Regions from separate parts of the Homo sapiens genome. Here all the other regions are reported to be linked to region 4. The links are microRNA targets in miRTarBase. Many come from high-throughput screens and were not tested one by one. Region 4 holds a microRNA gene; each other region holds the end of a gene's coding sequence.
What was found. Region 4 holds the annotated microRNA hsa-miR-103a-3p (AGCAGCAUUGUACAGGGCUAUGA, at 2,264-2,286, opposite strand). A microRNA usually pairs through its seed, bases 2 to 8, with sites in the 3' UTR of a target mRNA and lowers its output. Matches are read on the target gene's strand: a 7mer-m8 pairs with bases 2 to 8, a 7mer-A1 pairs with bases 2 to 7 and ends in A, and an 8mer does both.

Region 1: miRTarBase lists NACC2 as a target of hsa-miR-103a-3p. Seed matches in the 3' UTR shown: 7mer-A1 at 4,629-4,635 and 7mer-A1 at 2,518-2,524.
Region 2: miRTarBase lists KCNG3 as a target of hsa-miR-103a-3p. Seed matches in the 3' UTR shown: 7mer-m8 at 6,335-6,341.
Region 3: the mRNA of CITED2 is a reported target of hsa-miR-103a-3p. The part of its 3' UTR that is shown has no 7-base or 8-base seed match.

The regions. Positions count from the first base shown.
Region 1 is chr9:136,005,103-136,012,225 of GRCh38, forward strand. It overlaps NACC2 (NACC family member 2), which reads right to left. Exons shown (of 6, transcript NM_144653.5): 6 at 1,435-6,922. The coding sequence ends at 6,414. Among named protein-coding and RNA genes, the nearest start is that of UBAC1, 47 kb to the left of the region's middle.
Region 2 is chr2:42,437,548-42,444,670 of GRCh38, forward strand. KCNG3 (potassium voltage-gated channel modifier subfamily G member 3) reads right to left here. Exons shown (of 2, transcript NM_133329.6): 2 at 4,470-7,032. The coding sequence ends at 6,387. LOC124900542 (small nucleolar RNA SNORD75) reads left to right here and starts at 2,830; the gene lies at 2,830-2,889.
Region 3 is chr6:139,367,212-139,374,334 of GRCh38, reverse strand. CITED2 (Cbp/p300 interacting transactivator with Glu/Asp rich carboxy-terminal domain 2) reads left to right here. Exons shown (of 2, transcript NM_006079.5): 2 at 383-2,528. The coding sequence starts at 391. The coding sequence ends at 1,203. Among named protein-coding and RNA genes, the nearest start is that of CITED2, 3.9 kb to the left of the region's middle. RefSeq lists enhancers at 1-18, 529-588, 4,698-5,516 and silencers at 159-308, 879-978.
Region 4 is chr5:168,558,641-168,565,763 of GRCh38, forward strand. MIR103A1 (microRNA 103a-1) reads right to left here and starts at 2,333; the gene lies at 2,256-2,333. It overlaps PANK3 (pantothenate kinase 3), which reads right to left. Exons shown (of 7, transcript NM_024594.4): 4 at 5,249-5,425; 5 at 2,753-2,876; 6 at 392-517. MIR103B1 (microRNA 103b-1) reads left to right here and starts at 2,264; the gene lies at 2,264-2,325.

The DNA of each region.
Region 1 (7,123 bases), not on the chromosome of region 4:
CGACTTGGTGGAGGACTGGGCTGGGTAGGCCCCCTCCCAGAGTGGCAGGATTCCTGGGCCAAGGTGGGGCATTCTCCACGACCCTCCCTCCCCTAACTGGGCCACCCAGACCTCAGCAGTCCTAGCTGCTGAGGGGGCCTGGGACCCACCTGGGTGCGGCATTTGGGGTCTTGCAGGTGTGCATCCAAGCTGTCTGTCCTCACCAAGCTCCCCACCAGCCAGGCAGGTGCTGGCCCTGAGAGCTGGGGGCTCTGCTCCTTCTCCAGGAAGTTGAGTCGGATACACTTACCCTGGAGGCCTGGGGCTGGGCTTGGTGGTGGGATGGGGACTGGAACACTCCGTGTTCCCTGGCCCCCACTGGGGAACAGACCCCTTGGGCATTCCTGGTGGGGACAGTGTGGTGATGTGGCTCCTGTAGGAGGCAATGGCTCAGGGTGACCTCAAGCGCCATCCCCTTGCCACATGGGCCCTTCCATCCAGGGGGCCCATATGGAAACCACATCCATCCATTTGAGACAATCAGGGGCTGCCCTATGCTGGCTCCAGAGGACCCTCTTCTGGGAACATGGCCATGAAGCCCTGCCCAATAAATCCACCACCTCCCTCCAGTACGGCGGGTGCCATGAACCCTGTGAAAGGGGAAGAGAGGCCAGGGAGGGGTGCCCGTAAGGTGATCAGGGGTGGTCCCCTGGACGAGACCCTCACAGGACCGCAGGAAGTGAGGAGCCTGCCAGGAAGGTATCCAGAGGAAAGTGCTTCCAGACGTAGGAGGCACCCATCAAGGGCCCGGCAGGACAGGTCTGGGGGACACATGATTGCAAAGCACTCAGCCTGTCCTTGTGGATACGCCAGAGGAGCAAAAGGGAATGGGGCTGGCCACGCAGCCTGAACCCCAGGACACCAGCCCCAGAGCTGGAGAGAAGGCCAACCCCGCGGGCCCAGCTCTGCCCACCTGCACTTGTCTCTCTGTTCACCTGGGGGCAGACATGGCCCGGGAGGGGGTGGGGGAGGGGGAGGGAAAGAAGGAGCCACGCACCTTTTGGGTGGCAGGTGAGGCAGATGAAGGGGCTGCCCCACTTCTCAGACAATAAAACCAAGGTCCCGAAAAGGAGACCCCCCGACCCTGGCAGGTTGCCTGCGGGTCCGGACAGGGCCCCCCTCTAGCAGGCACACTAGTACCTGCAGACATCCTACCCACCTGCCCCTTCCCTTGTAAAACACTGGGGAGAGCAAGAGATGGGTCAGGTGACCTTGAACCCCACAGCCAGATCCCTGCCCTGTTGTGTGGACAGCTGGCCTGGGGACGCCGCTAACAGGGACGGGGTCCTGAGGGTGCCCCTGGGGGACCATTGGCCACCCCTGCCTTCAATAGCCCAAGCTTGGCTTCTCTGTGTCTCCCCCAAACCCCACAGGGCCAAGCCAAGTCCAGGAAACTTAGGTTTGAACTGACTTTATTATTTTGTAAATGTGAATTTTACAAAGCGCTTTACAATTAATGATCACATCCTTTTGTTTGTCATGGATTTCCACTGTCTGAAACGGCTCTGAGCACGCTTGAAGCCCTCGGTTTCCCTGTTCGCTTTTGAATGTTTCAGTTTTAGTTATTGATACAATGTCAGCCATGGCTAAAAAGTAACAGTCTTGACTCTACCGAGTAACAGCACAAAAACAGAGTGAGGGCTCAGGAAAACAAAACAAAGGCTTCCTCCTTAAAAAAAAGACAAAAAAAAAAAGCTAAGCATCTGTGGCTGAAATCTAACTCAGTGGTACTGTGAAACCTTCCTTTACAGCACAGGAAAATTTATTTTTTAACAGTCGTGAGTTACAGTACTTTAACCCCTAAACAGACTCTTTAAAACAACCGTCTCCTTTTTAAAAGTCTCTTTTTTCCAAACATTCCATCCGAAGGATGGATGCTCTACTTGCACCCAGTGCCATCCAAATCTTCAAGTCAAAAATATTTATACATTTTATACTTAGTTCTTTTTTTTGTCTGCTAAAAATAGTATTGCAAGTTTTGGCTTCTTTTGACATAAAAATCACAATCGTGTACGATGCTAACAATGGAAGCGACTGATCGGAATACGAGCCGGTCGTCCAGTCTGAATGCTTGCGATTCTGCATGATTTTCCTTTCCTTTTCTTTTTCCAAAGAAACAAAACAAACAAACACGAAAAACCTTTGCCATTTTAGAACCATCTTGTACCAAACCCTAAATGCTCCGGTGGTGACGTGCACGCGCGTGCACACACACAGACACACGCGTGCACACATACACAGACACGCGTGCAGAGACACGCACGTGCACACAGACGCGCGTGCACACATACACACAGACGCGCACACACACGCGCACACAGACGCACACACACAGACGCACACACGCACAGACACACACATGCACAGACGCGCACACACAGACGCACAGACGTGCACACACAGACACGCACACACACACAGACACGCGCACACGCACACTCTCACCCACGGAGCTGGCTGGCTGACATGACAAAAGTATGCAGCAGCAACATTCTGAAACAGTAGTTACAGCTGAGGACAGCTACGAGCTCTGGATTCTGCGCTTAGGACTCGCTGCTGGCAGAGGCAGACAGAGGGTTCTTGGAGTTTTCAGTTGGTTCATGGGCCATAGATCTTTTTCCACTTGCTGCCAAGATGTTTCCATAAAAATTTCCCTTTGAGGGGAGCCCAGGCAGTACACGGCTGGGTGGGGTGGGGGGACTGGGCCAGCGCTTAACAGTTTCAGCTGTCGAATGAGGACAGGTCAGGGTCAGGCACTAGAGCCCCCTCAGAGGGGGACCAGCCCTCCCTCCCTACCTTCCGCCTTCCTCCTGGCTCTAAACACAAATGCCAAAGAATGACTCTTCCTGGAGGAGAAAGGAGGCCAGGCAGCCGGCTCCTATGTTCTAGGAGCCCCGACCCGCAGTCACCAACGCCGGCACCCCCAGGCGGGTCCTGCTGACCTCTTGCCCACAGCTTTGTCCACATTCAGGGGCAAAGTACAACAACCAAATCCAATGCAAAGTTAAGTGACGACAGAGAACTCGGGTGGACAGACACAATGCGGAAAACAAGACAGAATTCAAGTACCGAGGCACCCAGCCAGGCGCGGCCCGCCGGGCTCACAGTATCTGTCACACCTCCGGTCCCTCCTGGACCTCTCCATGCAACCCAGCTGCCTCCTGGGCCCATCCCCTTGGGGAAGAGGAAGGCAGGGCAGGAGAGGCGGCTAGATCCCAGGCCCACCACCTGCCAGGCGGCAGCTCCAACACGGTCCAGTCCCTTCTGTCCTCCTCAAAAGGTGTGGAGATAACGTAGCTCTGTAATAGATTCTATATAGGATATGCGTATTGCTAATAGTCAGGCTTAGGGATAAAGGTGCAGACATCTCATAAATACTGAGTGGCTCGTCTCTCTCTACAGGGTCTGGATGAGTCAGGGTCACACTCACAGGACAGGACAACCCCGGATTCTAGAATTAGTCATCTTGTAAACAAAGGAGGGAAGGGTCCGGCTTTCTTAATTGGTTTCCTTGGGAAAAATGATCAAAGGATGCTAAGGCACTCTGGAAGGCCCCTCTGAGCCCGGGCCGCCGCCCCCGCCCCACGGTACATTCAGGACGTGGAGGGAGCACACAGCAGGTCCGCTCAGCAGCCACGCACGTCCACAGACACTCCCGACTCACGCCCACCGTGGGACACATTAGTGCAAAATGCTCGGCCTGGCCCGCCCGGGGCGCAGGGAGAGCTCAGAACCCATTCACATTAAATTATTATTATTTAAGTTTTATCTATAGCTCTTGCCTTCCTTACCCAGAACAAAACAGACGGCGATTACAAACGAGTGAGGAAGGGGCACGGGACATTGTGCGGGCCTGAACAGCAGTCAGGCGTCCTCTGTGCAGCCACCACCTCCGGCAGCAGCCAGCGGCTCCCTCCCTGTCCTGGCCAAGGGTGGGGGGGCACCCACTTTGGAGTGGAGGGCAGAGAGAGCCCTTCTGTCAGCAGCCAGGCCCCCAGGGATGGTCAAATTAAAGTGCAAATTTGGGTGTGGGGCAGATGAAGGAAACTCCAGAGGGAACTCAAGTGCAGCTCAACCTCACCTACCTGCCCCTGCTCCACCCCGCGGCTTCCTCCCATCTCCGAGGAAGGCTTGGTCCAGGTTCCCAGCGGGCCCCATGGGGGCTCCAACCCCACCTGTGCCCAAGACAGGGGAGGAAGAGGCAGAGAAAGGCTCCCTCTAGGCTGGGTGGTTCTTAGTTCAGCAGAAGGTCTGGATGCCTCTGCACCACTGAGCCACCTGCAGCCCTAGGAATGCAGGTCTTGGTCCCCCTGGACGTGGGCCCTGAGGAATGGGTGGAGGGGCCGAGGTTAGCGTCCACAGTGCCTGCCCATGGTCCCCCACCTCCTTCTGGAAAGCAACGTATTTTTCTGGAGGGCAGGCATGTGCTGGGCCTGGCTGGAGGCAGCCCAGGAGGCTGAGTGCTGTCTGTAGAGGCGGCCCCACGGGAGGTCTCCTAGGGCCTCGCCACAGGGGTGGGCTTCGGGGCAGAAAGGAGCCGCCCAGTGGGAATGCGTCTAACCCACACCCTGTAGGTCCCCAGGCCAGGGTGCAGCACATGGTCCTCCCCTAGCGGAGGCGGCCTCCGCTTGATGGGTTGTGGAGGTTGGGGGAGTGGGGTGCGCTGGTCGGCCACCGCTCACTGGCCTGTGTGCACACCGGAGGGGGTGCTGATGGGCGCAGGGCTGCACTTGTTTTGCAAGTGAAGATGGGGAAGCCGAGTTCTGGAGGGACAGAGGTGAGCAACAGACATTTCAAGTCTTGGGATGGGGGGTTCTTCTGGCCACACCTGGGAAGGAGGGCTGCCCCTGGACAAGGACACAGGCCTCCAAAACAAAAGGGAGGGACACCTGGGTAGGTGGCCACACCAGCACTTCACACAGGACTTCACACAGTCTGTGAGCCCTACCACTTAAAAAACAGTAATTAAATTTCAAAGGAAGCACTCCAGCCTCAAACCAAACAGCCCCATCTTCCATGGGCCCTTCCTCCACTGTCCCTGGCCCCCCAACATGATCCCTAACCCTCTGTCCCCTACCAGTGCCCATACCTCCAACTGCCCCAGCCCAGGCCTGTCCCGGTCATCCCCTGCCTGCAGCCTCAGGCACCCTCCATCCATGCACACCCCTCAAGGCAGACGGGGAGCCCAGCACCGGGAGGACCGACTCTCGCCCTGGCCCAGCCCTGGCCGCTGCCTCCTGCCCGAGCGGAGTCCCCCGCTCCCCAGGTCCGGCCCTGAGCTCAGCTTCACACGTACTAGTCGCCCACCCGGGACCCCCTTTTTCCCCCAGTGGGAGACGAGTGGTCCCTGGCCCTGGGCGGGGGAGCAGGGGGACGCACCCTAACGGCCACAGATGACCCACCCCAAGCCATGGTGGGCTGGGGACAGGGACACCCATCCCACCCAAAGTTTTTGTTCTATTGAGTCTGAAAGTTTCCAAACCATATATGAAATAGATCTAAATTACAACAAAACCTAAAAAAAACAAGACAAGCATAATCCCAAAGTGGCTGAGGCGGCAGAGGGCAGCGTGTGCTACATCAGCTGTGCACGTCCCACAGTGGGCCCGGGCGGGACAGTGGGAGGCCAGGCGGGGTCAGCGGTGCCCTGGGGGTCAGGGGACCGAGGGGCTGCAGAGCCGAGACGGATCGGGCAGAACAAGGACAGGGTGTGGGGGCAGAGTAAAGTACCCTTTTCTCCACCCCGAGGGGTGGGCCACAGCCATCACTGCCCCCTCACCACACCCCTGCACACACACGCACACACACACACTCGTGCACACACCCCACACAGGTGGAAGGCCCGGTGGGCCTGGCCCCGAGTCTCCGAAAGAAGGAAAAACGAGGAGTTAGGCCCTGGAGCCTGAGCCCTGCCCCGTCGCCCCAGAGAGGTTCCATGGGGAAGGAAGGAAGGGTCAGTGACGCACAGCCCAGCCCCCTCGCCACAGACCACCGCCGGCCCCTGCTTCGTCTTCCGGGCAGGAGGAGCAGGAAGGGCAGGGAGGAAGGGGCAGGGCTGGGCACCAGGGGCCTGGCGGCCTCCCACCCTCCCCAAGAAGGGGGAGGGAAGCTACACTTGGAGGCTGACCTTGTGAATATCAAAAGGGAGCCCTGGGAACTTCCTCGCAGGAGGCTGCCAGTGGCCTAATTGTTTACAGTATAATGAATGCATTTGTTTCCTTCATCAATTTTAAATACAAGCAGAATAAAAATCACATTTTTCTCAGGCAACAGTAGCAGTTCAGTAGGTAAGTGGCTTGATCACATTTGTTTGTATTAGTAACGCATGCAAGCAGCTCTAGTACTCGGTCCCTCGCGCAGCCACCCAGCTCCGCTTACAAGGTCCCTGCATAGGTGCCCTCCGGCCTCCGGGCCGCGGCCGCCGGCGTCTGGGGCCTGCTGGGGCCGCCCCCGCCCTGCTCAAAGGGCTGTGGGGGGCTCTGGCCATCGGCGGGCAGCGGCTCGGGGGCGGCCACCTCCTGGATGACCGAGCCAGCCCCGTCCACCTCCTCGCCGGCGTCGAAGGCGGGGTTGGCGGCGGCACTCAGGTCAACATTCACGGCGTCAGTTCTCAGAGCCACGATGGTGGCGGCGTCGCCCCGCCGCTCGGCGTAGATGCGTTGCTCGAACACCTGTGCCGCGGCAGGCGGGAACTCGGGGTCGAGGGGCACGCTGGCGGCGGCGGAGCCCATGACCGTGCGGTACATCTCCACGCCCTCCGGCAGCATGGACTTGATCTTGGGCAGCCAGCGCTTGCGAACGCGGCGGGCGTTGGTGCACATGTCCGCGGCGATCACGTTCATCTCGCTCTCCTTGAAGCTGGGGGCGAAGTTCTGACAGTACACTGTGAGGACGGGGCGGCGTGAGCTCAGCCACCTGCCTGCCGGGAGGCCCGCCCCTCCCCAAGGCCACAGAACCATGATGCCCTGGATGAGCCTCCCCGGCCGCTCCTGGGGCCCATGTGACCACCTGGGGCTCTCCTGGCCTCAGCCAGAAGACCAGAGGTCACGTTTCTCACTGCTCGGCCTGGGAGGCCTCCCCACCC
Region 2 (7,123 bases), not on the chromosome of region 4:
TGCATTTTACTTCAGAGTGTATAGTATAAAAGCGTGGATATGGTTTAATTTTTTTTTATTTTGCCAAACAGCACTGACATAGGTATGGTTTTAAAAAATAAATATGTGGGCTGGGTGTGTTGACTCACTCCTGTAATCCCAGCACTTTGGGAGGCTGAGGTGGGCAGACCACATAAAGTCAGGAGATCGAGACCAGCCCGGCCAACATGGCAAAACCCCATCTCTACTAAAAATACAGAAATTAGCAGGGCATGTTGGTGGGCGCCTGTAATCCCAGATACTTGGGAGGCTGAGGCCGGAGAATTGCTTGAACCCAGGAGGTGGAGATTGTAGTGAGCTGAGATTGTGCCATTGCACTCCAGCCTGGGCAACAAGAGTGAAACTCTGTCTCCAAAAAAAAAAAAAAAAAAAAAAAATTTTCTGTCACTACAATCACATAATAAACGTTCCATTTTTATCACAGCTCAGAATTTGTAACTATAAATATTACTCTCTACTAAGAAAGTAAAATTATCTTGCCCTCTATATTGTAGAGAAAGAAAGCATGGAATTCCATCAGAGTTATAAGATCGAGGTTGTAATATGCAGTTGAAAAATAATACCTAAGTTGAACAAATCATCGTATATTACTACAGCAGATGTCACTGCTTGAGCCCAGGAGTTTGAGACCAGCCTGTGTAACATAGGGAGACCCTGTCTCTACTACAAAACAAAAACAAACCAATACACACTACAAACTGCCTCCACTCTGTCATGGGCAGAACTATAGAATTATTTCCAAATAACAGAAATAGTGATCCTATCTAATATAAAATTACGGGAAATTTTAGTTTTAGTTTTAATATAATGCTGCATAAATAAGTACATCAAAGCACTCCTTCAGATATAAATAACATAGAATCACTTACTCCTGGTAGGTGAAAGCCAAATAATATTCTCCCTTCACTTTCATGTACTAAATGTTATATTTGGTATAGTCTTGTTGATATTTTAAACGATAAACCAAAGAATTCCCACCAAAGCTACTTAAAATGTATTTGTTTAAATTACAGCATAAATGCAGATTATCAAGTTCAATTTTCTAAGCAAATAGTAGTAAACTGACAATTGAGCTTATGCTAACAGTCAAAAGCTCCAGTACTTACTGAAAATATTTGGAAGATCTAGAAAAATCTGAAAGTTTGGGCATAAGTTAACCACAGAATGGGACAATATAATCATGCTTCTGGATGACATTTCACAAATCTATGGAAGGCTTCACTGCAAATGAGGCAGTAAATCATTAGTCTACTTTCAGAAGCAGAACTGATATGCCCAGGTTTCTGAGTGCAGATGGGCTCTGGAAAATCAGGAAGTGAAACACCATAGGAAAGAACACTGAACAGACACAGAAGTAAATGGATGCAACCTTTCCTGACCAAAATGGAACTTTCCAGAACATTCCATCAAAGCTTCAACCCATGTTACTTGACATTTCTCAGCCTGGTTCTGAGAATGTCCTGAATAATGCAGTGACAACTATCAAATACCTGTACTTATTTGGATACATGTGGATGAGTGCACAACTGTACAGTAATTTTTAAAATTCTAGAGAAAATCTGAGTTACTTATGCATTTGTCTCAAGCCCTCCTTCTTGACATCTAAGGCTTCTAAAAGCAATATTATTTTTATTATAAAAATAAACTGTCAATTATATATTATTGTATATATATATATATGATTTTTTTGAGAGAGAGAGAGTTTCCCTCTGTCACCCATGCTAGAGTACAGTGGCACGATCTCAGCTCACTGGAACCTCCACCTGCCAGGTTTAAGTAATTCTCATGCCTCAGCCTTCTGCGTAGCTGGGATTACATTCACGTGTCATCAAGCCTGGCTAATTTTTTGTATTTTTAGTAGAGACAGGGTTTCGCTATGTTGGCCAGGCTGGTTTCGAACTCCTGACCTCAAGTGATCTGCCCACCTTGGCCTCCCAAAGTGCTGGGATTACAGGCGTGAGCCACCATGCCCGGCAATAATTGCTTTTTAATTCAAACGTTAAAAAAAAAAAAGAAAAAGAAAAAGGAAAAATACGGGGAACACCAAAGCCCTAAATAAAAAAAAATTTTTTTTTTTGAGACGGAGTTTCACTTTTGTCACCCAGGGTGGAGTGCAAAGGCGCGATCTCGGCTCACTGCAACCTCTGCCTCCCTGGTTCAAGTGATTCTCCTGCCTCAGCCTCCCAAGTAGCTGGGATTACAGGCACCACGATGCCCAGCTAGTTTTTATATTTTCAGTAGAGATGGGTTTTCACCATGTTGGCCAGGCTGGTCTCGAACTCCTGATTTCAGGTGATCCACCCGCCTCGGCCTCCCAAAGTGCTCGGATTACAGGCGTGAGTCACCATGCCTGGCCAAGAAAATATTTTTAAAAGAAATCCTTCATGGCTTCCGAAGTTACAAGATTCTTAAAGGAAGTATATCCAGAGTACTAAGCCAAAAGTCTGGAAATCAAGCTTCTGGGACCTAACCTGACACTAGAGTGACCATGGCTAAATTACAACCCACTGGGAGCAGAGTTCCCTGGTTGCTAATATTTGGATCGGACAAAAGGCATACAATTGGGCCAAAATAGACCAGAAGGTTTCCACAACCCCTAGTTCCAACTTCCTATGACCCTATAAAATGATTAGACTATGTCTGATTGAATTGTATATTACACACCATAAGGGAATGCACATTTATGAAGGGTCAGAGGACTCGAAATATTCTATGACACTATGCATTAAGTTTGGAGTTACACAGCTGAATAGTAATACAGAGCTAGGAGCTTTCAATGTTTTATTTTTCATTTCTATGGAAAAGAGGTGAAGTGGACAGAAGGGATGTCTGAAATTCTATCCTGAGGCTTTAATATTTCAAATATTGTTTTGCATCTTTTTGTCTGTTTTCTTTAAAAAAAAAAAAAAAAAAGGAAAATAAACTGCTATTAGCAAATACCAAGCCAACAGGGAAAATTCTCCCAACACCAACATCCAAATTAACCCCATCTCCACCTCTTCCAGATCACAGGACATCTGGACAAAGGTTTAAAAAGACAAATAATTTTGACTTATTGACAGCCATTGTGGAAATAACTTTTCAGAAAGTATGAACTTACAAATGGGTACTTATAGGTAATGACCAAACCCAAGAACAAATGCAACTGTTTCAATTAGCAACAAGGACAATACAGTAATGAAAGCCTTGAATTGTTAGTTTGTTCACTTTCAAATATATTCCCTAATTTTGTGTTTGTAATCCTAAAACTCCCATTTTAGAGAATACAAAACAAGTTACATATTAGATCAAGTCATGTAAATTCAGGTGTGGTAAAATCAGATTAAAGATTAGGAGATTAGGGCTTTTTTCCTCTTTGGGTATTTTAATTTAGGATAATGTCTGACTTACTGGTACCAATACAGATATTAATGAAAACATTTCTGCCATGAAAAGACTGAGTTATAAGAGATGTCTGTAAGTATAGCTAAGAAAGAAGTGATACTTAATGGTTTTTTAAAAAAGCAGCAACAGGCCAGGCACAGTGTCTCATGCCCATAATCCCAGAGCTTTGAGAGGCTGAGGTGGGAGGACTGCTTGAGGCCAGGAGTTTGAGGCAAGCCTGGGCAACACAGTGAGACCCCTATCTCTACAAAAAAATAAAAATTAAAAAATTAACCAGCATGGTGATGCACACCTATAGTCCTAGCAACTTGGGAGGCTGGGGTGGGAGGACTGCTTGAGCCCAGGAGTTCAAAACTGCAGTGAGCTATGATCACACCACTGCACTCCAGCCTAGGCAACCAAGCAAAACTCTATCTCTAGAAAAAAATAAATAGATAAATAATGATAAAAGTAGCAACGCTCAGGGAACGTTACAATAAAATGCTGTTCCTAAAAAAACACAACATCCATGAAGACAAAACCCTAATACATATTTTTTCATTTATGAATGAACTACTCTATCACGTCTCATCGTCTCCTTATAAATGGGTAGCTTAACTGCCACTAGTATTTACCCAACATGCTTCTTTATGAAAATCGGTCCTATGGAAAGTCTGGAATCACCAACAAGAGATTTCACACTTGTTACCTAAGGGTAGCATGAAGTCTGTGTGTATATTTGCACATGTACATTATATATATATATACACACACACATATCCCTATATATAAAATATATACACATATATATACCTATATGTATGTATAAAATATATATATATAGGTGTGTGTGTATATATATACCTATAGGTATATGCTTCTCCTCGTCTCTTCACACAGAAGTTTCTCCCCTCAAATCAGTCAACTGTTTGTGCCCAAGTCTGTAACAGACACTGTCGGGGATACAAAGGTGTATGCATGAGAGAGGATCCCAGCTCTCAAGACAGTTATAATTTACTTGGGAAGATAGGACATATTCACATAAAGCGGTCCCAGTACCAGTAAAATTGATGGTTATCATATTTTTATTAGTAATATGGAGGTGCTATCATCTGCACATTGTTTGCATGAACCACAAAGCTTTAATCCAAATAGTTAAGAAAAAATAAATCCATGCCATTTATTTCAATTATATTAGAATACAATAAATATACAATAAATAACTGAATTTCTTTTGGGTATGTAAGAAGTAGCATACTAGCAGTAATAGGGAAAATAGGGCAAGATATTTAATGGCCAAACTATTACATAAGCTTAGGAAAGGAAATTAAGGGAAAGAAAACAGTTTTGCTATTATTACCTCAGCATGACAATGACAAAGAAGTGTGATTTTTCCAGGCTTTTCTCAGAACCCAGAGATGTGTGAAGATTAACCTGCTGGGCTAGGTTTCTGGAGATCCAGGTGTTAGCCCTGACTCCTTCACAATTATATTCTCTCCTGCCCTGATTTTCTACCTGTAATAGTTGAGGTTTGAACTAGATGATGGCTAAAATTCCTTTAATGAACACTTCTGGTAACCCTTTATTTGATAAATATATCCAGGTCCTCCATCACCCACCACTTCCCAATCCCTGTCTTCTCTACCTCTGACAAAATTACTGTGTACAACATTCAATTTTTTATGAATCTGTCACTAATTATTTGTGTTTATATATACACTAACTTCTTTATGGTAACTGGTTGAAAAAGCAAAATTCTAATTTCTGTTGCTAAAATTTAGTTACTAAACAATCATCACTTTTACATTATCTAGTCCTAATAATCTAGCCAGATTAACATGGCATATTAGTCAGTATTCTTACAAGAAGAGTTTTGGTGTAGCTGTGATTCACAATAGTTAAAGATCAGATCAAATCATTATGTATCCATCGCTTTTACTGGCTTAAAATTGACTTAGCTACACAGCAACTAAGAGTACAGTAATATTTAATTTCTCCCTTTTATGATAATCCAGTGACAACACGTAAGTATGACTTTGCTACTAAAAGGCTATATAAATATCCTTTCATCTGATAAGTCTTATTAAACCTCTAGTGTTTGGGGGAGGAGGTTAAGAGAAGAAGAGGTTGTAATATTGAGTCATCTCAAATTATTCCTATTATAATTTTTATGTTGGAAGTATTCTTGTTTGGACATCTAAATATTAGGACAGTTATCACCTAGGAACAGCAATGAATTCAAATATTATCCAGTAAGATGCTAAACAACACAAGCTCTCGTCAATTCTTAAATACCTTTTGAGTCATTACAGTAAAGAGATAAATCCAAAATGGAAAAGGGAGAACATACTCAAGCTTCCATGAAGCGGCACGATAAGGTGAATAATTGGCACAAAAATAAAGCAAAGAATTGAGAAGTATGCTGGAAAAGTCTTTCAAATACTATTCTTGCTTGTATCTAGCTCCATTATACAGTTTAAATTTTGGCCAAATTTTTAAAGTATTTGTTAAACAGTTCCCGCATGTGACATATGTTTCCAGGATACTTCTGACATTGATATGAGAAATTATAAAACATTTAGAAATGAAAATGTTACTCTCAAACAAAAAACACTATAAGTTCCAAGCTTCTTCTGAATTCATAAGATGGAAAAACATTTGGAAAATAGTACCTTTCTGTTTTAAAATGTTCAAATAATGTATTTTTTAAAAATGTGTAATCATTCAAGGAAACGGGAAAACAAGTCTAAATAAAACCGGGTCCTAAAGTTTACTCTAGGAGTCATTATTCTTCCTTTGCAGTCTCAATTCTATTTACTCCATAACAAGTAAACTGTTTTATCCCTTCGGCTGGGAAGGATAATTTTTACCCTACCAAGATGATGACAATGCCACTGCAGTGCTCACCCAGCAAGAAACACATAAATATGAAGCAGCATCAAAGTCTTTCTATGAAGTGTATGCAAGAATTGATTTGCAATGCATTAATTCAGGAATTCAGTGGAGAGGCTCCTACTATACCTAGCAGATCTAAACTTGAGCTCATGATAACACTGCACAAAGCTATGGTAGATAAAAGTGATAGGTAATGCCAATAGAACAATTCCACTGACAACACAAACTCCTCCAAGAATTCTTCCAGGCACTGTGATAGGATACATATCTCCATAGCCAACTGTAGTCATAGAGATAATCACCCACCAGCAGGCAGCAGGAATGCTGGTAAAGTCCTTGTTGGATGTTTCCAGGTCCAGCCCATGTTCAAGAAGCTGAGAAAGTGCACTAAAGATTGCCATGGCAACACAAATGAAGACAAGTAACATAACCATCTCTCGGTAGCAACGTTTGAGAGTCAAACCGAGTGTCTGAAGACCAATGAAGTGACGGGCAAGCTTAATCACCCAAAAAATCCTCATCATTCTAAGTACCCTCAAGGTGACTCCAGCCCTCTGGAGTTGAGAGTTCTCGCCTGTAAACACTGTCATCAACACAGAGATGTAATACGGCGTGATTGCCAGTAAATCAATGATGTTCAGGGGTCTCTTGACAAACTCACACTTGTTTTTGGAGACAATGAACCTCACGATGCACTCGGCAGTGAACCAACCTATGCAGATAGCTTCAATTATCCTGTCAAGAGAACAAAAGAAGAATTGATCATTTTATTTTTAAGCATTTTAATAGCTCTTAGATTTCTTCAGATAGTACTACACTGACATAC
Region 3 (7,123 bases), not on the chromosome of region 4:
GTGAGGCGAAGCTGGGGAATAACAACAGGATGTGCAACAACAGGATGAGGAGGGCTGATTTAATGCCTGAAGTTCGCAGCAGGGCTACGGGGCACTTCCTTTATTAGGCCACTTCGGGGAGCAAAGGGGGTGTGGGCTCGGGTCCCCCCGCCCGATCGCAGGGGAAGGGGCTGTTTGTGCAGCGTCCGGCTGTGTTATGAGTGGTAGCTCTTCCGTGGTGGCTAGCCCGGGTGCACAGGCTGTTAGTGGGATCTTGGGGGTGGTGGTTCGCAGCCGACGTGCGCCCGGGAATCCTGGGGGGCAGAGGCGAGCAAAAGTGGGGTGCGCTGTGGTGGGCGACACGTGTGGCGCGGGTCTCATTATCTGCCCTTTTCACTTCCAGGACTGGAAATGGCAGACCATATGATGGCCATGAACCACGGGCGCTTCCCCGACGGCACCAATGGGCTGCACCATCACCCTGCCCACCGCATGGGCATGGGGCAGTTCCCGAGCCCCCATCACCACCAGCAGCAGCAGCCCCAGCACGCCTTCAACGCCCTAATGGGCGAGCACATACACTACGGCGCGGGCAACATGAATGCCACGAGCGGCATCAGGCATGCGATGGGGCCGGGGACTGTGAACGGAGGGCACCCCCCGAGCGCGCTGGCCCCCGCGGCCAGGTTTAACAACTCCCAGTTCATGGGTCCCCCGGTGGCCAGCCAGGGAGGCTCCCTGCCGGCCAGCATGCAGCTGCAGAAGCTCAACAACCAGTATTTCAACCATCACCCCTACCCCCACAACCACTACATGCCGGATTTGCACCCTGCTGCAGGCCACCAGATGAACGGGACAAACCAGCACTTCCGAGATTGCAACCCCAAGCACAGCGGCGGCAGCAGCACCCCCGGCGGCTCGGGCGGCAGCAGCACCCCCGGCGGCTCTGGCAGCAGCTCGGGCGGCGGCGCGGGCAGCAGCAACAGCGGCGGCGGCAGCGGCAGCGGCAACATGCCCGCCTCCGTGGCCCACGTCCCCGCTGCAATGCTGCCGCCCAATGTCATAGACACTGATTTCATCGACGAGGAAGTTCTTATGTCCTTGGTGATAGAAATGGGTTTGGACCGCATCAAGGAGCTGCCCGAACTCTGGCTGGGGCAAAACGAGTTTGATTTTATGACGGACTTCGTGTGCAAACAGCAGCCCAGCAGAGTGAGCTGTTGACTCGATCGAAACCCCGGCGAAAGAAATCAAACCCCCAACTTCTTCGGCGTGAATTAAAAGAAACATTCCCTTAGACACAGTATCTCACTTTTCAGATCTTGAAAGGTTTGAGAACTTGGAAACAAAGTAAACTATAAACTTGTACAAATTGGTTTTAAAAAAAATTGCTGCCACTTTTTTTTCCTGTTTTTGTTTCGTTTTTGTAGCCTTGACATTCACCCACCTCCCTTATGTAGTTGAAATATCTAGCTAACTTGGTCTTTTTCGTTGTTTGTTTTTACTCCTTTCCCTCACTTTCTCCAGTGCTCAACTGTTAGATATTAATCTTGGCAAACTGCTTAATCTTGTGGATTTTGTAGATGGTTTCAAATGACTGAACTGCATTCAGATTTACGAGTGAAAGGAAAAATTGCATTAGTTGGTTGCATGAACTTCGAAGGGCAGATATTACTGCACAAACTGCCATCTCGCTTCATTTTTTTAACTATGCATTTGAGTACAGACTAATTTTTAAAATATGCTAAACTGGAAGATTAAACAGATGTGGGCCAAACTGTTCTGGATCAGGAAAGTCATACTGTTCACTTTCAAGTTGGCTGTCCCCCCCGCCGCCCCCCCCACCCCCATATGTACAGATGATAATAGGGTGTGGAATGTCGTCAGTGGCAAACATTTCACAGATTTTTATTTTGTTTCTGTCTTCAACATTTTTGACACTGTGCTAATAGTTATATTCAGTACATGAAAAGATACTACTGTGTTGAAAGCTTTTTAGGAAATTTTGACAGTATTTTTGTACAAAACATTTTTTTGAAAAAATACTTGTTAATTTATTCTATTTTAATTTGCCAATGTCAATAAAAAGTTAAGAAATAACTTGTTTTCTAGAAGTCATTTGGGGGTGGTTGTTCCCTTTGGTGGCTTTTTTCCCCCCGTCTTTGAGTTGAACACTATTGATGAGAGTAAGCATTCCAAAGGATAAATTACAGGACACTAAAACAGGTCATGATGAGCTTAAGCGGAGAGCAGGATTTAACATAATTGGCATAATGCTTCATTGTTATCATTGTAACATGCCTCTTGGTGTGCTTTAATCAAAAGCTGCAAAGTTGTCACTGCTTTTTTTTTTTTCTTAATTGCCATCATATCAAGTGTACTCCAGAGTTAGAAAGGTTTGCAATACTCAACATTATCTTTTTCAATGGGCAGGAGGCAAAAAAAATCAAGTGTTTCTGTTTATACCTGATTCAACTACTTAAATAGAGGTAGATTGGAATAATACACTGATTGATTGATGGGTGGCATTAAATATAAATCTACCTTTATCTCCAGTGATGAGAGTTTTATTTCTCAGCAAAAGTGCCAAGGATAGGTACATATTTTCTAGCGTAATCTCTGAAACAGTGTCTGACTGGTTTATAGTTCTGAGAAAGATGAGGCAGAATTCCACTTTGAGGCTTTTGTCCTATAATATTTAAAATGTACTCAGGTTGACTCAAAGGTCAAATTACAGTCTTTACAAGATGTTCCCTCTTAAGCATGCCCTGTTTTCCTGAATTCTGAGTTTTCCTGTTGCATGCATGGGATGCAAATCACCTGAAAATTATACTTTAATTTTACCTGGATAGATGTCTTATCAAGAAGACCATAGCTACAACTAAGTGGGTATCAAGTTTTGCCTTATATAATCAAGCAAAGGAAAAAGTAATATTGTGAAAATCTCAAATTATCCCAGGTGGAAGGAGAAGGAATTTTGTTTTTCATGTTTTCATGGCTTATCTTATGTTTATAAGAGCAACACACCTACCTTCAAGAAAAAATACAGACTTTTGTACGCAACTTACTAGGGGAAGTAAAAAATGTAGGTTGAGGAAAATCTTATAAATAATGCTTTAAAAGAACATTTCATTTAGACTCCGATTCTCATCTTAAATTCCATATTTTATAAGAAATCAGGAGGAGCGGATATTTAGAAGTGTTATGAGAGAGTAAGTTGGGCATAAAGGCTGCTTTAAGTATAATTCAGATCACCTGCATTTTATAATTTTATTTCCAAGGTAGGCCATGTAAAATTAAAATGCACACACTCCACTGGGTTTTTTATATACCTCTATAATTGACACTTTCTTCTTTAAAATTATGTTCAAATAAATATACTGAATCATCCAAAACTCTTTTTACCCTACTTTAAAAGCTGATCCAGATTTCCACATTAATAGTTAAAGCTGAAGTTTTCTTCAGCTAAGACATGTCAATACTAAATCTGCAATCAGCAATGAATCTTTCTGGCTAAGCATTTTCACAGTAAGTTTTTCTTTCTCTCTCTCTCTTTTTTTTTTCCAGAGGCTTAAGTGAAAAAATATGTTTGCATACATATTAATACAGCAACTCCAATCCTTTTTCACTAGTGCCAGGAAAAAAGGAAAGTGATTAAATGCATTTTTTTTTTTTTTTTTGCATAAAGAAGCCAAAGAATTGTCTTGCCACCACCCTTCACCATTTATTCTGCCAGGGAATAAGCCACAACACCTGCTCTGTCACTAAATTCCTCCTGCTGCTCAAACGCCGGAACACGTATGTGGAGATGCAGAGCCCAAGGAACTATTATTAGATCTTGAGCCCATCCCTACCAGAACAGAGGACTCAAACAGAGGAGCTGGGCTAAAAAGCACAATTTGTCTTCAGTACAAATACAAACGCTCCCGCACCCCAGTTCACTTGAGTGATCTCTGTTTCATTAAAAACTCTTTCTTGATCAACAATTGAGCAGATTCTACATGATATCTGCAGGTCTCTTAAGCAGAGAAAAATAACTCCTTGTTTCAACAACCTGATTAATGAAACCTGTACAGTGACCTAGATCACCCGGCTACTGGCAGACATTTGCAAAACCTTTTGTGGTCTTGCTTCCTACTAAGTTGCTTATAGCATATGGGGAAATTTGACCTCTGTACCTTGGCTGTTTGTCAAAAAGTTCTAATATGATACAAGAGAGCTTCTGTTCTTTAAGCTTTGCCCAAAAATAGACACTCCATGCTTGATTTTCAAGAAGAGATCAATGATAAGCTGCAGTGCAACCTCATAGCTACATGTCAGAAAAATAAGTCCACATTAATAAAAACGTATACTTCTGTCTTGTGCCTGATAAAATCCTCGTGACAGTATCTTTGCGGGAGCTGATAAAGACGTTAGAGCTATGGATGGGTCTTTGAAGAACAGTTACCTAATCACCACTGTTTATGGGGTGCTGGGCTAGAGCACTAGTAGCAGAAGGCTGACATCTATTGTGAAGTTTATGGTCTCCATGACTTTTACTACTGTAAACGCCTGGGATGGCTATAAATTGATGTCAACATTAAAGGCCAGATCCTTTAGAGAAAAATATTAATCCACTAATCTATTATGGGTGGCCAGCTTTGCAATAAAAACTTTGCAGCCCCGGACCATTAGGTGTTTTCGCCCCCTTGTGGAATTTATTTAGAAGGTCAATGAAAAGCTGTTTCCTCAAGAGCTTTTTCGCTTTTTTGTTTGTTTTGTTGCCATTTCTGAAGACTTTGTTTTCTTCTTTGAGCAAACAGCACATATTCGAGCAACACATTTTTTAAATCAAAGAAGATTCCAAAATAAACATCCTTTATAAAATAAGAATATTTTACTTACCAAAAACCTTAACCTATGATTAAGTGTGCATAATTGAGATTTGCCTCATATTTGAAAATATGCATTACCTAAGGGGTTTTCTTTTAAAAGTGTAAGGAGCAGTGGTTTGGGCTGATGCTTTAGCCTGCAAACTGAGGGGATGGCAAACCCTCAGCGCCTCCACAACAGGACTGTTGATTTGCAGTAAGGGTAAATAACAATGCATTTGACGGTATGAGGTTGGAAAGGTGGAGGGAAATATCCAGGAATGCAGAATGCAATTATCCACATTGGAATGTGACCAAGCCACCAGCCCTAATCTTGTGAAAGGACTGCAGGATCTTTAATGAGGATGAGTGTTGCTGTCTAATTGAGTCAGTAAAATTTACTTTAAAATAAACTGGGCAGATAACATTGTCTCCAAAAAATAAATAAATTTAGAATTCAAGGAATTTAAGACCCATGCCATTGGCAATTTTTTCCTCTGCAGTGGAAATGTTTTGCTAGCATGAAAGCAGCAGTACACCTCTTCAGAAATGCATGCTTCAGAGATGGTATTTATCATTTTGGGACTGCACCACTATCATCAAAATCAGCGCTCCCAGGCAGGTTGAGGCTGAGCCTCCAGAAGAGAACAATAGGTAGCACATCAAATGACTCAGCCAGTGAACCCCTATTATCATGGGCTCTGTTTGTCTTCTCCCCCTAGAATAGAAGGAACAATGGCAATGTCAGAATTTTAATTGCAATGGACTGGCTTAAATTACTTGACCTATTTTTATGCAGCAAGGAGAAAAATGATTCTTTTTTTTTCCTGGTAGCCATACTTTTAATTTAAACTGGAAAAGGAAATATAAGAATATTTTCCATCAAATAACATACTGCTGATAATTTTAGTTTGCCTTGTAGTGAGACCTACCTATATTTTAAAAAAATATTAAAACATCTGAAATAAAGAACTTCTTCCCTTCCCAGGAAGAAATTAAACTCATAAGTAATGCAGTAATGCTAAAGAGTGAGAAAATATTCTAAGAGCGGCTGGCGTGAATTTCTATCATATTTTGATATTTATACACAATGAAAGAAAAGCTATGATAAGTAAGAGTCTGTTGTGTTGAGGAACTGAATCCATGATCCTTGGGAAAGAGAAACTATCAGACCGACCTCTTCCATACTGTCTATGAACAAATAATGACTTTTTAGCGGCTGGATTCTTATCAGTTACTTCCTTCCCCTAGAGGAGCACTAAATGAAGCAGCCCCAGGAGGCAGTTAGTGGTGCTTTTTGAGAATTCAGCTTGGCTAAATCAGGACTTGCAGAGTGAGCAAAAAGCACATGAAAGAAAGATGGACGGTGAATATTATTACTTGCTTTATATGTTATTAGTTTTCATTAGGCTGAACTAATCTGAAAGATTAGTGAGGCAGGGGCACAACCAGGGGTGAGGACTGTGGTTCACGGAATTCTTGGAATTTTCCCATGGTATCACCATTGTGCTCAGCCCTGAAATCCCTCCCTTTCTTCCCTCTACAGTAGAGTGGTTACTTGATTACATTTTGGGTTGCTGAACAAAGCCGACAGGGGAATCTGTCTCCTGAGGAGCCTGTAGCAAGGCAAGGTTAGCGTGGTGCGCATTGCAGGAGATATGCAAATAGGCGAGTGGCTTTTGAAAAGTTAATAGTGCCCAAAGAATTCTGCCTGTCCATTCCTGAAAGCTGAGTGGGGAGCAAAATTAAGGCTTGAGTGCAAGTCAAACTAGCACAAAATCAGGAAAAGTCAGCCAACTCCAGATTGTCAGTACTGTTTTTATGAACACATGCTACAGTGAAGGAAATGGGATTGGAGGCTATTGAGGTCTTTTCTCTTTGGGTTTTCCTATGGATTGGTATAACATTTGGCCTTGTGATTTCCTTAGTCACTAGGCCACAGAATTTTATTGTTGTTAGTGGTGGTGGTTTATTCTCGTAACCCACTGGGTTTGGGGTTTGGTTTGGGTTCCGTTGGGTTTTTTGCTTCATGACAGTTGCTATCTCCTTAAAGCACATATAGTATACTTCAATTGTGCATACACATTCTTAGATCACCTTGTAAATATGGCCCCGTTGCATGTATTTTGGATAACTCTTGAAAGGAGGATAAGCAAGATGATGACCAGTTTCATACATCTCTCTTCACCCTATGTGTTTAGCAAACATAAGGACGATGAGGCCAGTAGGTGAAAAATGATTGAACTGACTGTTATGTTCCTAATATGAACTTAAATATCTAAATGTTTCTAAGA
Region 4 (7,123 bases):
TCTGGGGGTGCCTAACAGGTTATTGTAATTCTCTTCCCCACAACTGAAACTGAAGCGAAGGAACCAATATTCTACTACTTAAGGCTGGGCATGGTGGCTCACACCTATAAAGGATTGCTTGAGGCCAGGAGTTCCAGACTAGCCTGGGCAACAAAGAGTGATCCTGTCTCCACAAAAAATATTAATAAAAATAAATTTTCTGGGCACAGTGGTGCATACCTGTGGTCCCAGCTACTTGGGAGGCTGAGGTGGGAGGATTGATGAGCCCAGGAGGAAGAGGCTGCAGTAAGCCATCATTGTGCCACTAAACTCAAGCCTGAGTGACAGAGCAAGACCCTGTCTCTTAAAAAACATGCTATTAAAATTCACAAAAAACATTTTCCTACCATACCTCATGTTCTAGAAACAATGCTTTTAGTTGACCTTTTGACCAGTAATCCAGTGCATATGCCAAAAGTTTCATTGAGAGGGTATTGACACGTAAAAAGTTTCCAACAAAGACAACTCTGTTTATTTTCTAAAAGAAAAGAACAAAGAAAAAACTTGTAAAAATAATAGATTTTACAATATAAAAGGTTTCTAAATATTTATTTAAAATTTATTTTAAAATGCAAAAAAACACAACTACGCTTTATTAGTATAACACCTACTACATTCCTGGCATATAGCTGTATAATCCTGAATATTTAAAAATTAGTTCTGCACACATCATCCAAAATCCACAAAATGTGTAACACCAAGAGAGAACCCTAAATTATGGACTTTGGGTGATGATGATGTGTGCACAGGGTTATGGACTGTAACACATGATCACTCTACTATGGGATGCTGAGGATGGAAGTGGGCTGTGTGTGTATGGAAGGTGGTATATGGGAACTCACTGAGCTTTCCACTTAATTTTACGTGAACCTGAAACTGATCTAAAAAATAAAGTCTACTTTTAAAAAAAGGTTCCAGAAAGACTCTAGCAGATGATTTCAGGTGAGATTTGTTTTTGAAAATGGCCAATAAATAGCCCCCTTACAAAGTCATTTGGAGACACATTACTGATGTGATTAAAAAAAAAAATCAAAACATGGTAAGTACTATAAAATGCATTTAGTTGATAAGTAGCAAACTTGGCCCACACATTGCAATGCATGTTGAACAATGACATGCAACTGTGGATTCTACAGAATTGGAGAGTAATACTGACTGGGGTACTGGCATGTGCATTCCCCTAGGATTCTAGCATTCTTTCTCCGTCCCCTGCCTGATTCATCAAATCATTCTCTCTCTGCAAAGATTCCACACTAATTTGGTTTCTTAGATTATCTCTATGATTAGGAAATCTTACAAAGGGGAACTGGTGTTTGAATCACCAGAAAACTTATTTCGACTCTCACACTATACTGACTTTTGAGTAGAAATCTTTGTACATAAGTTGGGATACTGTAAACCATGGCCTAAATTATTGTTAACTCAATTGGTCAGTGGAAATTTAGACATAAAGGGCTAAGAATAAAGGTCTCAAATTGTTGTCAGCTCCCAACATGGTCTACTAGTAACTCCATCAACCAACTAACACTTAAGTTTCTAAGTTATTAAAAAACTGATGAGACCAAGTTCTGGATTTAAATACAGAATAATTCAGAGGATTTGCATATTTGTTCTCTCTGCTGGAAGCTTTCTCCCCAAAATGTCTACATGCACAGTTTCCCCCTCACCTCCTTCAAACCTCTGCCTAAGAATCACATTTTCAATAAAGCTTTCCTTTAACCACTCAATTACTTAGCAATTTGTCCTCTACCACTCTCTGCCCTATTCCCAATCCTCTTTATCCTGTTTGATGGTCTCTTTTTAAAAAAATAGCACTTATCACCTAATACACACTACACAATTTACTTAATATGTCACTAGAATGAATGCAAGCTCCACAAAGCCAGATCTTTGTTTTCTTCATTAATATGTTCCAAATACCCAGAACGATGTCTGGCATCTGGTAATCAGTAAATATTTACTCAATGAATAAATGAATGAATGAACAAATGAAGGGTTCCTTCGAAAAGCGTACTTCCCAATCCATTTAAAGTATTTGATATTTATAAAAATTAAACGGGCAAATATATCTATTATTATATAAGGAAGCTAGAATTAAATATATATATTCTCTTCCAAACAAAGAATCCCAACTATATGGTCAATCTAACAGTATATCCTTTTCACACTTTTCTTGTAACAATAAACACCACTCAAATATCATGAAGAACAGGTCTCAATGCCTTCATAGCCCTGTACAATGCTGCTTGATCCATATGCAACAAGGCAGCACTGTAAAGAAGCCGAGGGCAGTAAGAAAACTTCCAAGAATTTCACTAATCAAATGCAACATTAAGCACTGGTGGTATAGTGGTGAGCATAGCTGCCTTCCAAATGCAAAATTAAGACTAAAAAAAATGCTTTCACAAAGTATCTCAAAATGTCTTATGCTTAGAACTTTCTTTTACATCCTCAAGGGATTTAGGTTGTGTTTTTCTGAAAAAAAATTCTGAATAAATTTCTCCTATTTCAATTTGAATTATCTGCTACTTTCTTTAAAAGTAATATAGCAACTGGATACGTAACATATATACCTAATGAGTCTTGGCATTTAATGGGTTACATCTCAATCCCAGAGGCCTCCTTAGGGAAAGTGAAGAAGCCCTGCTAGGTGTATATAGGACTCCAATTCACATTTTTGATAATTCAAGTTTTGTGTTTTTTGTTTTTTTACCTCATTAACAGCACACATTCGTGCCACAGAACCAATGTTATTGGTGATAGTAACTAAAGTAGCTCTTGCCAGATCTTCTTTACTAACAGATTCTCGCTTCTCCTTATAAATCATATTCCCAAAACTGCAGAAAAATGAAAAATAAAGTCAAATCTGCTGATAAAAAGCAACATTTTACGTATTAACAGATATATCTACAACCTGGATATTTTTATAAAATTAGGACCAAAAAGTAGAAACACATAGGGATAAGATCAAAACAAACTAACAAAAAAAATCTATGCAAGAGTAAAGTAATACCTTTCAAAGAATTAAGGTTAAAATGACATCTCAAAAAAAGCATAGTTAGTTATTATAAGAAAGCAAAGATTACCAAAATATCTTCACTTAAACCTGATTCAAAACAAATTAGCCAAAATTACAAAATGTTTCCAAAAGTATCTCAGCTTTAACTTCAAATTCTTTTTCATTCAGTCACAAGAAACATTTATGACATACCAAGCTTTGTGCTGGAGACAGATAGTCCCTCAAACAGTGAATTAGTCTAGTGCAGCACTGTCCAATAGAAATAAAATACGAGTAATATATAATTTCATATATGTTCTATTAGCCACATTAAAAAGGTAAAAATAAACAAGTGAAATTAATTTTAATTGTACATTTCATTTAAGCCAATATATCCAAATATCATCAATTCAACATGTGGCACTCATAAGCCAAGTGCCTTACGTGGCTAGAGGCTACTGTAATGGACAATGCAGGCCTACATACAAAAGACAGCAAGAGAAGCGCTAACAGTAACAGGGAAAAAATCCAAACAAAGGCTAACCCCAAACAAAGGCTAACCTTGGAAATACAAACAAAAAAATATCTTTTATTACAGTGGTAAGAGAAAAAAGTTAAGAAGGTATGAGGCAGGGCTTTCAGAGCAAAAGGACCAGAAAAAGCCAGAAAAAATGAGAAGAAAAATCTTAGGCAGAGGCAACTAAAGGTTAAAGGCACACAGAAATGAGAAATGAAAACATCTATGAAATCACAAGATGTTTGGTCGGAGTGAAGCGTCTATGCAAGGGAGAGGCAGGAGATATTACTGAAGAGTGAGACAAAGTCCACTATCAAAGGGCACTGGATTCCCTGACAAAGAACTTGGGGTGCACAAGCAACAATGGTTAGGAAGCATAATGGGAGACAAGACTGATAAACAACAGAACAGTAAATTTAAAATATTTAGGAATCAATTTAAAAAGCCATGTATGGACATATTTGGAGAGGCCTTTTTAAATGTGTGAAAGGCACAAAAGTAGCCTTAAACAAACAGACAAGCTAAGTTCTTCAACAGCAAGACTTACTATAAAGATATCATTTGTCCCTAAGTTAATATGTAAACTTACTGAGATTCCAAAAACATTTTTGTAATAGAGAAAATGTTTGCCAAGTTCATACAGAAAATCAAGCAAAGGAGTGAAACTAGCCCTTCTAGAGATTAAAACATACTTTTTATGCCTCTATAAAGCTGAAAGTATAATGCTGGTACATCAACAGAATGAAAAGCCAGCATATGTAAAAAAGCCATCTCAAATCAGTGAAATAAAGATGGATTATTAGACATTAGGGCCTTCTGGAAAAAAAAACAAAAAACCTGAAAAATGAAAGCATGATCTGTAACTCACAAAATACCCTAAGATAAACTATAAGTAAATCAAAGATTTAAGTATAAAAATACCACCATTAACATATCAGAAGAAAATAAGGGTTTATTCCTTTATATATTTGGAATGTAGAAGACTTACTTACTATGAATCAATATCCAGAAGCCATAAAAGAAAAGACTGATAAATTCAACTGTATAACAATCCAACAGAAAAGTAGAACATGAACAATAACTCACAGAAAATAAAATATGCAAGGCTCTTAACCCCAGTGTTGGTAGGAGAAATGTAAATTAAAATTACATTAAGATACCACTTCTCCATCTGATTAGCAAAAATGCAAAAGTTAGCACTCTACTGGTGAAACAGGCACTTTCATTTACCGCTGGTGAGAGTGAAAAACAGTACCGCTCTTTTGCATAATTAACAATATCTCAAAAATGCATTTGCAATCCAACTTTTGGGAATTTATCCTACACCTGTATAAAATAAGGTCAACAACATGTAAAGATTTCTATATGGATACTTTAGAGTATATATAGTATGCCATATAATGGTAGATTACCTTTTGTATATGGGGAGAAAAGTAAAAATATGTATTTGTATTTGCATAAACACTGGAAAGACACTCAAAAATTAAAAAAAAAAAAGTTTCTTACAAGGTGCACTCAGGGTAAACTTCTTAATGTATACTTAATTTTTAAATGACATCAATGTTCAAAACTTGGAACCTAAACTGGATAAGAGAAAGCACCCTTACAACTTTCTGTTACATTGCTTTCCAAAAACATAAGCAACTTGAATTACTTAACTTCTGTAACTTAAATAACACAAATGTTAAACTTACCTAGATGCTACAGCCCAACCTGGCAAACCAAATCTTTCATAATCTCCTCCATAAATATCACGGACCAGCTTGTCAGCTTGTGTGCTATCACCTTTGGATGCCATTTCAAGAGCCTCTTCAAAACTTTCACAGCCAGTCAATAAACTGCATAAACCCAGAAAGGTACCCCCTCCAAGGCTAAAGAAAATAAAGAAACTTGCTAAGTTGCATTTATACATTATATTCTTTCTCTAAAGTAAAAGGGTGGATCATTCATGTATTCAATGAACACACAGAAAAAAAACCTATGACTAATGCTGAGTGCTGAAATAACATAACGAAGGCAACAAAAATTGTTTAGTAAAACCAAACTTGTTAGATCAAAGAATAAACCAAAGAAAAAAATCACTTGGTGGAAACATGAGGAAAGGAAAGACCTATTAAATCTCTCCCAAAGTCTTCACCTAATACCTTACACTCTGTAGTTACCAAAGATAAATTGTTGTGTGTGCATTAAAAAGGAATAAATGTTAAAAATCAGTACCATATTAATTACAAAGAGAAAATCTGTAATTTTTCTTTTGAGACAAGGTCTCACTCTGTCCCTCAGGCTGGAGTGCAGTGACCATGATCATAGCCTAATGTATCCTTGAACTCCTGGGCTCAAGCAATCTTCCTGTTCCAGCCTCCGCAGCAGCTAGACTACAATGCACACTACCACACTGGACTAATATATATGTATATATTTTTGTAGAGATGGGGGTCTCACTATGTTTCCCAGGCTGGTCTTAACTCCTGGTCTCAAGCAATCCTCCACTTTGGCCTCCCAAAGTGTTAGAATTACAGGCATGAACTACCATGCCCATCTTTGTAATTTTAAATCGTTTCCAAGAAATGATTTTGGGAAAGGCTTCTTTACTTGGCCTGACATGGATGAAATCAATTCAATATGATACACTAATATTTCACATGACCTACACATAAATACAATGAGTAAATTTATGTCCAGCTGGCCAACATGTCAATTACAGAAATTTATTTGCTTCTATTATTCTTCTGGATATGCTCACAGAATGAAATCATATCTAATTCCTAAACTGTAAACCTTTGCTCCCTAGTCTCATCTAAATTTCTAGCAAGTTCTACCCCTGAATCACTGTTGGATTTAGTTAACAGACTGAACTTCTTTTAGAGTTAACCGAAGAAGGCAATAGCAGTGTACAATTCTTTGGCATAGAGAATTACAACAGAGGTGAACTTTTAACCACCATAAAAATAAAGTACTAATTAAGTATAATTTAAACAGAATTACTACTTTAAAATTAAAATGAGTTTTTTTCACAAATTAATCTAAAGTATTTGAAAATCTTTCTTCCTTAAACTGGAATCTTCACCTCTCTGTAAAAGTTGATAAAATACATAAAAGAATCATGAGTTTTATATCTTATTTCTCATTCGTATTTCAGGTATTACAGAAAAGTATGTGGGCTATTTGGGAACATTAATGTTATCACAAAAAGAAATCACATTAATTCATCCTATAAGAATAAATTACAATGTTCCCCAGTACTGCAGTTTAAGGGTTTACATATATTAATATCCATTAAAAAGTCAAAAAATAGGTAAAGAAGAAAAATGCTTTGGAAAAAAGAACAAAATATAAACATAATAAAGTTTAAAATCAATAGAACACTGTTGCTTCCAAGTAAATGCTCCAGTTAAATTCTAGAAAAAACGTTACCAGACTCATTCTAGATAAAAATTCACTTTACCATTATGGAAATTTTGATCCCAACTGATGCTGACTAATAAACATTTAATAATTTCAGTTTGAGTCTTGACATACACATCTTATAAAAATACATTATCTGTTGGCTGGGAGCAGTGGCTCATGCC